Regions from separate parts of the Homo sapiens genome. Here region 2 is linked to region 1. Evidence: fine-mapped expression QTL. Tissue or cell type: anterior cingulate cortex. Region 1 holds a variant in brackets; the other region holds the start of a gene. All regions are shown on one strand. Distances are from middle to middle. Region 1 holds the start of CLEC2B (C-type lectin domain family 2 member B). Region 2 holds the start of KLRF1 (killer cell lectin like receptor F1).

What was found. PIP is the estimated chance that this variant, and not a neighbour inherited with it, causes the effect. A credible set is the group of variants that fine-mapping cannot tell apart.
Region 2: KLRF1 starts here. The variant in region 1 is the best candidate, but not a certain one, in a credible set for the expression of KLRF1 in anterior cingulate cortex (GTEx, PIP 0.80).

The regions. Positions count from the first base shown.
Region 1 is chr12:9,869,011-9,873,282 of GRCh38, reverse strand. CLEC2B (C-type lectin domain family 2 member B) reads left to right here and starts at 3,929. Exons shown (of 5, transcript NM_005127.3): 1 at 3,929-4,078. The variant T/G (reference allele first, on the strand shown) is at 2,291.
Region 2 is chr12:9,825,145-9,829,688 of GRCh38, reverse strand. KLRF1 (killer cell lectin like receptor F1) reads right to left here and starts at 2,208. Exons shown (of 6, transcript NM_016523.3): 1 at 2,060-2,208. The coding sequence starts at 2,144.

The DNA.
Region 1 (4,272 bases):
AAAAATTATCTAAAGTAACTTTTGCACCAACAGTAAGGTGCATAAATGTGCTTTGGTCAAGAAGTAGGCTGAGGCAGACATCCAGGCCATAGTGACTTAATGAGTTTGGAGTGCAGGCATATAACTCCACTTGTTATATAACCTGTTTGTGTAAGCTCATACTTGGCTCAAATCCACTATTGTTTGGAAAAGGTATAACTGCCCTGCTGATGCTGTACAGGCGCTCTTGGGCTTGCCTTGGCTCAGCATGGCGTGGCATGGCATGACATGGCTCGCACTGGTGCCCAGAAAGAGAGTAGCACTATTGACCCTTGTAAGGGAGAGCCAGTCGCCTTGAAGGCAGGCAGAGGGGAACCAGGAACGAGCTTGTGCCCAGAGGGAAAGAGTTAAGCTGCTAATCCTGACAGAGCTGGCCTTGCAGGCCAGGGCGTGCTGCTGCAGGCGTGGCGGCGGCAGGAGTCCCAGAGCCAGAGCAGACAGCGGAGATAAAGGCAGACAGTGTGAGAGAGTCGCTGTTGGTAAATAAAACTACATTTCACCTGCTTAGGGCCCCCAAGTGTTCTTTCAGCTATCGCCCATCCACCCACTCCCCTCAGACCTCAGCATGGGCTGGAACCTAACCTGGGTCATGACATTTGGAGTCATTGTGGCCCTAATGCCAAGCTAATAAAATAAATACTTAGAACTCATCAATTTGTGATGATTTTTAGAAGATTTTGCTATTATCCATGCATGAAATTATTAACATCTGTTACATCCGTATAGTGAAAATAATACGTAATGCTGTACTACTGCATATTTATTTCCAACTCTGTGTGTTCAGTGATGTCACCTGGGTACCTTGAAATCAGCAATGGTGGGAATAATTACATCACGGAAATCAGCTGGTGTTACAAACCAGAGCTTGTTATGTGTGTGTTTTTCTCTGTTCCACCAGTTGTTAAAGGACAGCACAGAAGTGGAAGCACCCTTTTTGGCTCTCTATATTACTTCTGTGAACATTGAGCTCTATCTGACATTGCTATGGCTCTATATGTCAGTAATCCTGGCTGCTATTGCAATTTGACCCTCATTACTATAATTGGCCCCAGCTTGTTTCAGAGTGGCACTCTGACACTTGGCGTTTCCTACTTCAAACCCTGTCCCAATACTCTCTCTGAATTCAGTTCTGTGGGAACATCTCCCACTGTAATCTTTGGCATGTAGAGAAGAACTATGCTAAGCTTCTCAGTGATGTTTATGTAGGACTTAAGTTCTTCCACCAGCGCCTTCCTTACTGCTTTGGTAAATAAGGTGCCCATTATATCATCCCATAGAACATAGTCAGTTGGTGGGTTTCCTGTCCTTATCTAGTTTATCCACTGTAGCATGCCCACTTCTCTAAGCATTTTTATCTTTTCTTCAGCTACCTGCCATGGGAATTCTGGAATGTTACTCTACTCAGCGTGAGCCATTGCTTTCTCCAATCTTCTTGGAGTTATTTCAGCAGTATGTCAGCACTGTTCACAGTATTTTTCCAAGTTATTAAATTCTGTATTGCAACTGAATGCCCTAATGTTGATAAAATCTCCCTTATCCAGCTTTATGTTTCTCTCATGATCTAGCACCCTCAGAATCCAATCCCATTGTGTACACTCCAAGCTGTTGTTATTATATATTGGTTAGGTCCAAATTCATTCTGAGTATAGCCCTTTCTCTCCCTTATAAGCTTAGCACATAACCTTAGTTATTGGCCTTATGACCAATAACTAAGAAAGGCAAGTAAGGGAGGGATTCCTGTAAGGAGGGTGTGAAGGGCACAATATTTTCTTTAAGGAAAAAGGCATGACCTCGACAAGGGAGAACATGTAACTTTGTTAGGATTAGAGAGTCCAACGTTTAGAAGCTTCTAGATTTTTAAAATTTTTGAGAAAAAAAATTGTGAAAAGTCACTATACAAATGATGGAAAGTATTTTTAATACATTTATCTAAAAATGGAATTTTTCTATATTATGTTGCAACCCATTTTACTTATTTATATACACATTTTTATGTGTATGTTTCTCTACATATATATTTACATATATATAAAATCTTAAAAATCACCATAAGGAAACAAATAAATCCATAAAAATGGGAAAAATATTTAAATAGGTCATTGAAAAAAGATATATGAGTTACCAATACGCACGTGAGTAAATGCTCAATATAACATCAGAGATGTACAAATTAAAATCACATTTAGATTCTACTACACGCCTACTAGAATGGTTAAATTGAAAAAGATTGGGCATATCTAATATTGCTATT[T/G]ATGTGGAGCAAATAGAACCATCCAATATTCATGTTGGGAATGGCACAACTTTTTGGAAAAAAATACATTTATAAAATAAAACATACATTTTCTATGTAACCTAGCAGTTTCACATCCAGGTATTTCTTCAAAAGATTAAAAAACGTGTCAATAGAAAAACTTTTGCATAAATGTTTATTTTGACCTTATGATATCCAAGAAGTGGAAAAAGCTCAATGTCATAATGGATACATTTTATTATAAAATAGATAAAAATATTTTATGTCTGTACAATGAAATACTACTCAGTAATAAAAAGAAATTAACTGCTGATCTGTGCAAAAACATGGATAAAACTCAAAAACATTATGCTCAGTGAAAGACATCAGACTTACAAGAATTGCCAACTGTATCATTCTGCTTAACAGGAATTTCTAAAACCAGCAAAGCTCATGTTTATTGACAGTAAGTTGGCTGCTGCCTGGCTTCAGGGGTGAGGATGAACTGCAAAGCAACAGCGGGGAACATTTCCCTGTGTTGAAAATGTTTTATATCTTAACTGTTGTATCTTGACTGTTTTCCTTTTTGGAACAAAACTAAATTTCACTCAACCATACTTGAGTAATCTCTATATTTTTCTATACATGCTTTTCTAATAGTTCTTTGGATACAATCTTTTGTTAACAACAAAGGTAGAATATATTCATTTCCTCATGAATTTTCTGTCTTTTTTTTCTGTCCAAAAATGAAAAGAGCAATTTTGTTATCTGTCCTTTCCTTCTGCCCAGAAATGATTAAACCTGTATTTCTTATTCTCTTCATATTTTCTTTGTTTTAATTCCTTTGTACTACAGTTTCTTCTCTATTCTCATTTGCTTTTCCTCTTCAAGTTTCTCTCTCAGAACAAATGCAGTGTTAATCCCGAAGCCGCTTGCGGGACACTGGCTTCTTCTCCTCAGTTTCCTCCCTAATATATTTGTTGAGGGGTAATACAAAATCACTGGGAAACTGATTAGAGCAGATTTGAAGACAAAATTGTGGCCTGGTAACTTAGCAAAAGCATAATGGTGTCATCTTGTATGCTGATGATAACGTTCTGGGCACTTTGTTACTTTCGTTTTCTTTTTTCCCTCTGTGTGTCTTTGTGTGTGTTTGTGTGTGTGCTCACACCCACACGTGTGACTTTGCACGCATTTGTCTTTGAGAGAGAGATAATAGTTTTTGTTTTTCTTTCAGTAGCCAAAGTTTAAACCATTGCTTTTTCTTTGATTCTATCGCTTTTAAGGTGATCTTTCTTAACACAGGATAAGAAAGCAGTAATGTCCTAAAGAATGCTGTTGAATTAATTAGTATCAGCCTCTCCTACAGTTCTGGAAGGATACGTGGTTAAGTACCACTCCTGGATGAATCAGAAAAACAGCCACTTGAGCAATTTCGTGTTCTGTGGTTCAGATGAGAATCCCAGTTGAGAAAGTAAGAAAATATGTGTTTATTCTTCAGCTTTAAATTGTTATATCACAAACTTCCTTCCTCCTTGGCAAGCTTTCTTTTTTGACGAGAAGAAAATTGTAATAAACAACAGTATGACTAATAGATAGTCACATGGTTACTTCCAGTTTGCAAAATGCTATTTATACTTTGAGTTACTCTTCAAAAGTGGTATACCTCTAGTTTGGAGCTGTGCTGTAAAAACAAGAGTAACATTTTTATATTAAAGTTAAATAAAGTTACAACTTTGAAGAGAGTTTCTGCAAGACATGACACAAAGCTGCTAGCAGAAAATCAAAACGCTGATTAAAAGAAGCACGGTAAGAACATTTTTGTTTGTTTAGAATGACCGTTATTTATTGAAATTGTGATGCAGAATGTTAAAGCCTTCGAGAAAAGAATTAAATTTTGTGGTTTCTTTTGTGAAACTAGAAAATTCCTTCTTATAACAAGATTGAGATTTGCATATGACTGTTTTGTCCTAATAAATTCAGACTTACTTTACATTATTTGA
Region 2 (4,544 bases), 44 kb after region 1:
CTCCTGGGCTCAGAGATCCTCCCTCCTGAGCACCCTGTGTAGCTAGGACTACAGGCATGTGCCACCATGACTGATTAATTTTTTTATCTCTATTGTTTGTAGAGATGGGGGTCTTGATTTGTTGCCCAGGCAGGTCTTGAACTCCTGGCCTCAAGCGATCATCCTGCCTCGGCCTTCCAAAGTGCTGGGATTAATGGCATGAGCCACCACACTTGGCCCCTCATTATATAAGTTTGACTGAAAATATGTAAATGTTTTATGCTACTATAAAGTAAGTTAAACAAAAATGAAAAAAAATCCATAAAAAATGAAGAAAAGGAATCTAACTAGGTATTGTTAGTGTCTTCACTATAGAGAGAGGAATTACTTAAAGTGATTTTAAAACATTTAACTGTGCATGCTCAATGGAATATATCTTAAGGATTTTTTAAAACCGCAAAACATTTTAATCTGTTTTAAGTAACTATTATTATAATATTATTTCTATAGTGATTCTGAAACTACTACATATGTATAGTGGGATAGAGCAATTATGTAATTTCTTACTATCACTGGCAACAAAGGTTTTTCAATATATGAGAAAAGATTTACAAATATGTCATCACAAAATTAAGTTAAATGAATGAACATCATAACCCCAAGGCTCACATTGTCAATCTAATTCACATAAAATACGTCTTACCTCAAGCTTTAATAAATATTAGCTAAAGGTACAAGACATAAATATTAGTATGTGTCACTTAAATATCTGGGAGCCGAAAATCTGCACATTTTTGCTTCAGAGAGACATTTATGAACAGAGTGTGGAAAAAAGTCTGCAGAGAAGTCACTACATGTTGTAGTCTTTCAGGTTTAATATCTCTAATTTCCAAAAATGAAATAAAAATTGAGTGTAGGAAGTAAAGACTTGAAAATATGGGAATCTAAAAATTCACATGGAAGAGGCAATAAATTTCTTATACATAGCACGTATGTAACTCTAAGATGAATCACTGATGGATGATACTTGTGGAAGGACTCAAGAGATAAGTAAAATTTTCATGGGTGAAGTTATTAAAAGAGAAATATTTAGAAAGCAACAGAACAGAACAGACAGTCTCTATAACTGTGATTATTTGTGTCTTTAATTTCTGCTTATCTCTTTTGCCAAATCACATTAAGGTGGCATGATGGAATTGCATTGTGTATGGAGGGTATGCTTGAAGTAGCAAATTAAAATGTTGATTGCTGGTGTATAAACTTTATTTTGAGTCAACTTGGTGAAAAGCATAAAGTTTTTGAGAAGTTGAATTAAAAATTAGTATTAAAGGCTGGGCGCGGTGGCTCATGCCTATAATCCCAACACTTTGGAAGACTCAGGTGGGTGGATCACCTGAGGTCAGGAGTTCAAGACCAGCCTGGCCAACATGGTAAAACCCCATCTCTACTAAAAACGCAAAAAATTAGCCAGGCATGGTGGCGGGCACCTATAATCTCAGCTACTCAGGAGGCTGAGGCAGGAGAATTGCTTGAACCTGGGAGGCAGAGGTTGCAGTGAGCCGAGATCATGCCATTGCACTCCAGCCTGGGCAACAACAGTGAAACTCCGTCTCAAAAAAAAAAAATAGCATTAAAACACCATATTCTATGAATGATAAGGAGGTGAATGGCAGCAAATATTCACTAATTTGAAATTATTAATTTTAATTGAGTATGCATATTTCCTCAGAGAATGTCCTTAAGAAATTATATCAGACAAAATATTACAAGTAAGTGTTAGTTCCACATTGATAAATGGGAGAGAGAGAGATTATCTCATAGTAAATTTGTAAGATTAAATGAAGGAACATAGATAAAACATTCTGTATAGTGCCGGAAACTGGTGTTTCTTAAATGGTAAGAGAGGTTGTTATTTTTAAATCATTATTAATATTGAAAGAGAGGACAGGTGAGAGAGATACAGAGACGGAGAAAGAAAAGCACCCAAATACTGAAACAGTCCAATAACACAATGGAACAGGATACGGGAAACTACCATGTTAATTCACACCAATTGAAAAAATGAAATTAAATTCCATACCTTTAAATGTAAGTTGAGATGTTTGGGCAGAACTCCTTTTCTTTGACTGTACATTCAATGTCATGTATCTTTCTTCATCTTGCATCTTCAATGTGAGTGAATGTGTGTGTATACAGGTATGTTTTGTTTTATTAAGTATAACATGAAATGAGGAAAGAATAATAAATCTGCTGCTAATCAGAGATGCTCCTCAAATTGTCCTTTCACAGTACATATGAGGGTTCACAGTTTCACTTATTTGTGAAAACCTCAGAGGAAATGTTTTCTTTTTAAAAGTTGCTTTCCCATGACATAGATAACACATAATTTCTCAACTGTCCACCACATATTGAATTGAATATTCTTTTGAGTGCTTTACAAATTTCTCTTAATTTACCCTTAAAGTCAAGGGAATGGAAATTATGCCCCTTTTTGAGGTGAGGTTAATAATATATAGCTGCCTTTTGTTATAGCCTAAATATTTATATCATTTGAATTAGCCTCCCTAACATATTGATATTTAATTTAATAATTTGCAATTGCCAAGCAATTAAATTCTTTATCCTAAAACAATATTGTTTATAAATCATGCTAATAATTTAACAGTATAATTTGATTTTTTTTAACTTTTAGGTTCAGGGCTACATGTGTAGGTTTGTTATATAGGTAAAATCATGTCACAGGGGTTTGTTGTACATATTATTTCATCACCCAGGTATTCAGACTAGTACTACATAGTTATGTTTTTCTGATCCTGCCCCTCCTCTCACCCTCCACCTTCAAGTAGGCTCCGGTGTCTGTCATTCTCCTCTATGTGTACATGTGTTCTCATCATTTAGATCCCAATTATTAGTGAGAACATGTGGTATTTGGTTTTCTGTTCCTCCATTAGTTTGTTAAGGGTAACGGCCTCTAGCTTCATCTATGTTCCTGCAATGGACATCATCTCATTCTTTTTTATAGCTGCATAGTATTCCTTTGTATATGTGTATCACATTTTCTTTATCCAGTCTACCATTGATGGGCATTTAGGTTGATTGCATGTCTTTGCTATTGTCAACAGTGCTGCCATGAACAGATGCATGCATGTGTCTTTATGATAGATTTATATTCCTTTGGGTATATACCAGTAATGGGATTGCTGGGTCAAATTTCTGGTTTTAGGTCTTTAAGGAATCACCATGCTATCTTTCATAATGGTTGAACTAATTTACACTCCCATCAAAGGTGTATAAGTGAACCCTTTTCTCCACTACCTCATCAGCATCTGTTATTTTTTGACTTTTTAATAATAGCCATTCGACTGGTATGAGATGGTATCTTACTGTGGTTTTAATTTGCATTTCCCTAATGATTAGTGCCTACTGGAGGATAGAGGGTGGGAAGAGGGAAAGGATCAGGAAAAATAACTAATGGGTACTAGGGTTAATACCTGGGTGAAGAAATAATCTTTACAGCAAACCCCCATTACACAAGTTTACCTATGTAACAAATTTGCACATGTACTCCCAAATTTAAAATAAAATTTTAAAAACACAATATACCCTTTTAAATAAGATAAACTATTAATTCAAGGAGAAAATATTTGACAAATTATCAGAAATATATTTGTTGCTTAATGACAAAAGTAAAAGGATAATACATTTTTGTGTTATTTTTGTTTATTTTTACTTGCTAAATTTTGTTCTTTAATTTATAATTACAATTTCTTTGGCCATTATTTGACACTCCAAATGGATAAGAAGTAAATTAAGATTGATAAATAAAACACGAAAAGTATCTGTTCATGTCCTTAGTCCACTTTTTAATGGGGTTGTTTATTTTTTGCTTGTTGATTGGTTTAAGTTTCTTACAGATGCTGGATATTAGACCTTTGTCAAATGCATAGTCTGCAAAAATTTTCTCCCATTCTGTAGATTATCTGTTCACTCTGTTGATAGTTTCTCTTGCTGTGCAGAAGCTCTTACAGTTAATTATTTTGTTTGTTTGTTTTGTTTTGTTTCACTTTTGTTGCAATTGCTTTTGGCATCTTTGTCATGAAATATTTGCCCATTCCTGTGTCCAGGATGGTAATTCCTAGGTTATCTTCCAGGGTTTTTTATATTTTGGGGTTTTAGACATAAGTATTTTATCCATCTTGAGTTGAGCTTTGTATATGGTATAAGGAAGGGGTCCACTTTCAATCTTCAGCATGTGGCTAGCCAGTTATCTCAGCACCATTTATTAAAAAGGGAATCCTTTTCCCATGGCTTGTTTTTGTCAGCTTTGCTGAAGATCAGATGGGTGTAGTTGTGCAGCACTATTTCTGGGCTTTCTGTCCAGTGGTCTATGTGTCTGCATTAGACCATTGTGTTCCAATGGTCTATGTGTCTGCTTTTTTTTTTTTTTTTACCAGTACCTTGTTATTTTGGATATTGTAGTACTGTAGTATAATTTGAAGTTGGGCAATGTGATGCCTCCAGTGTTGTTCTTTTTGCTTAGGATTGCCTTGGCTATTTGGGCTAAT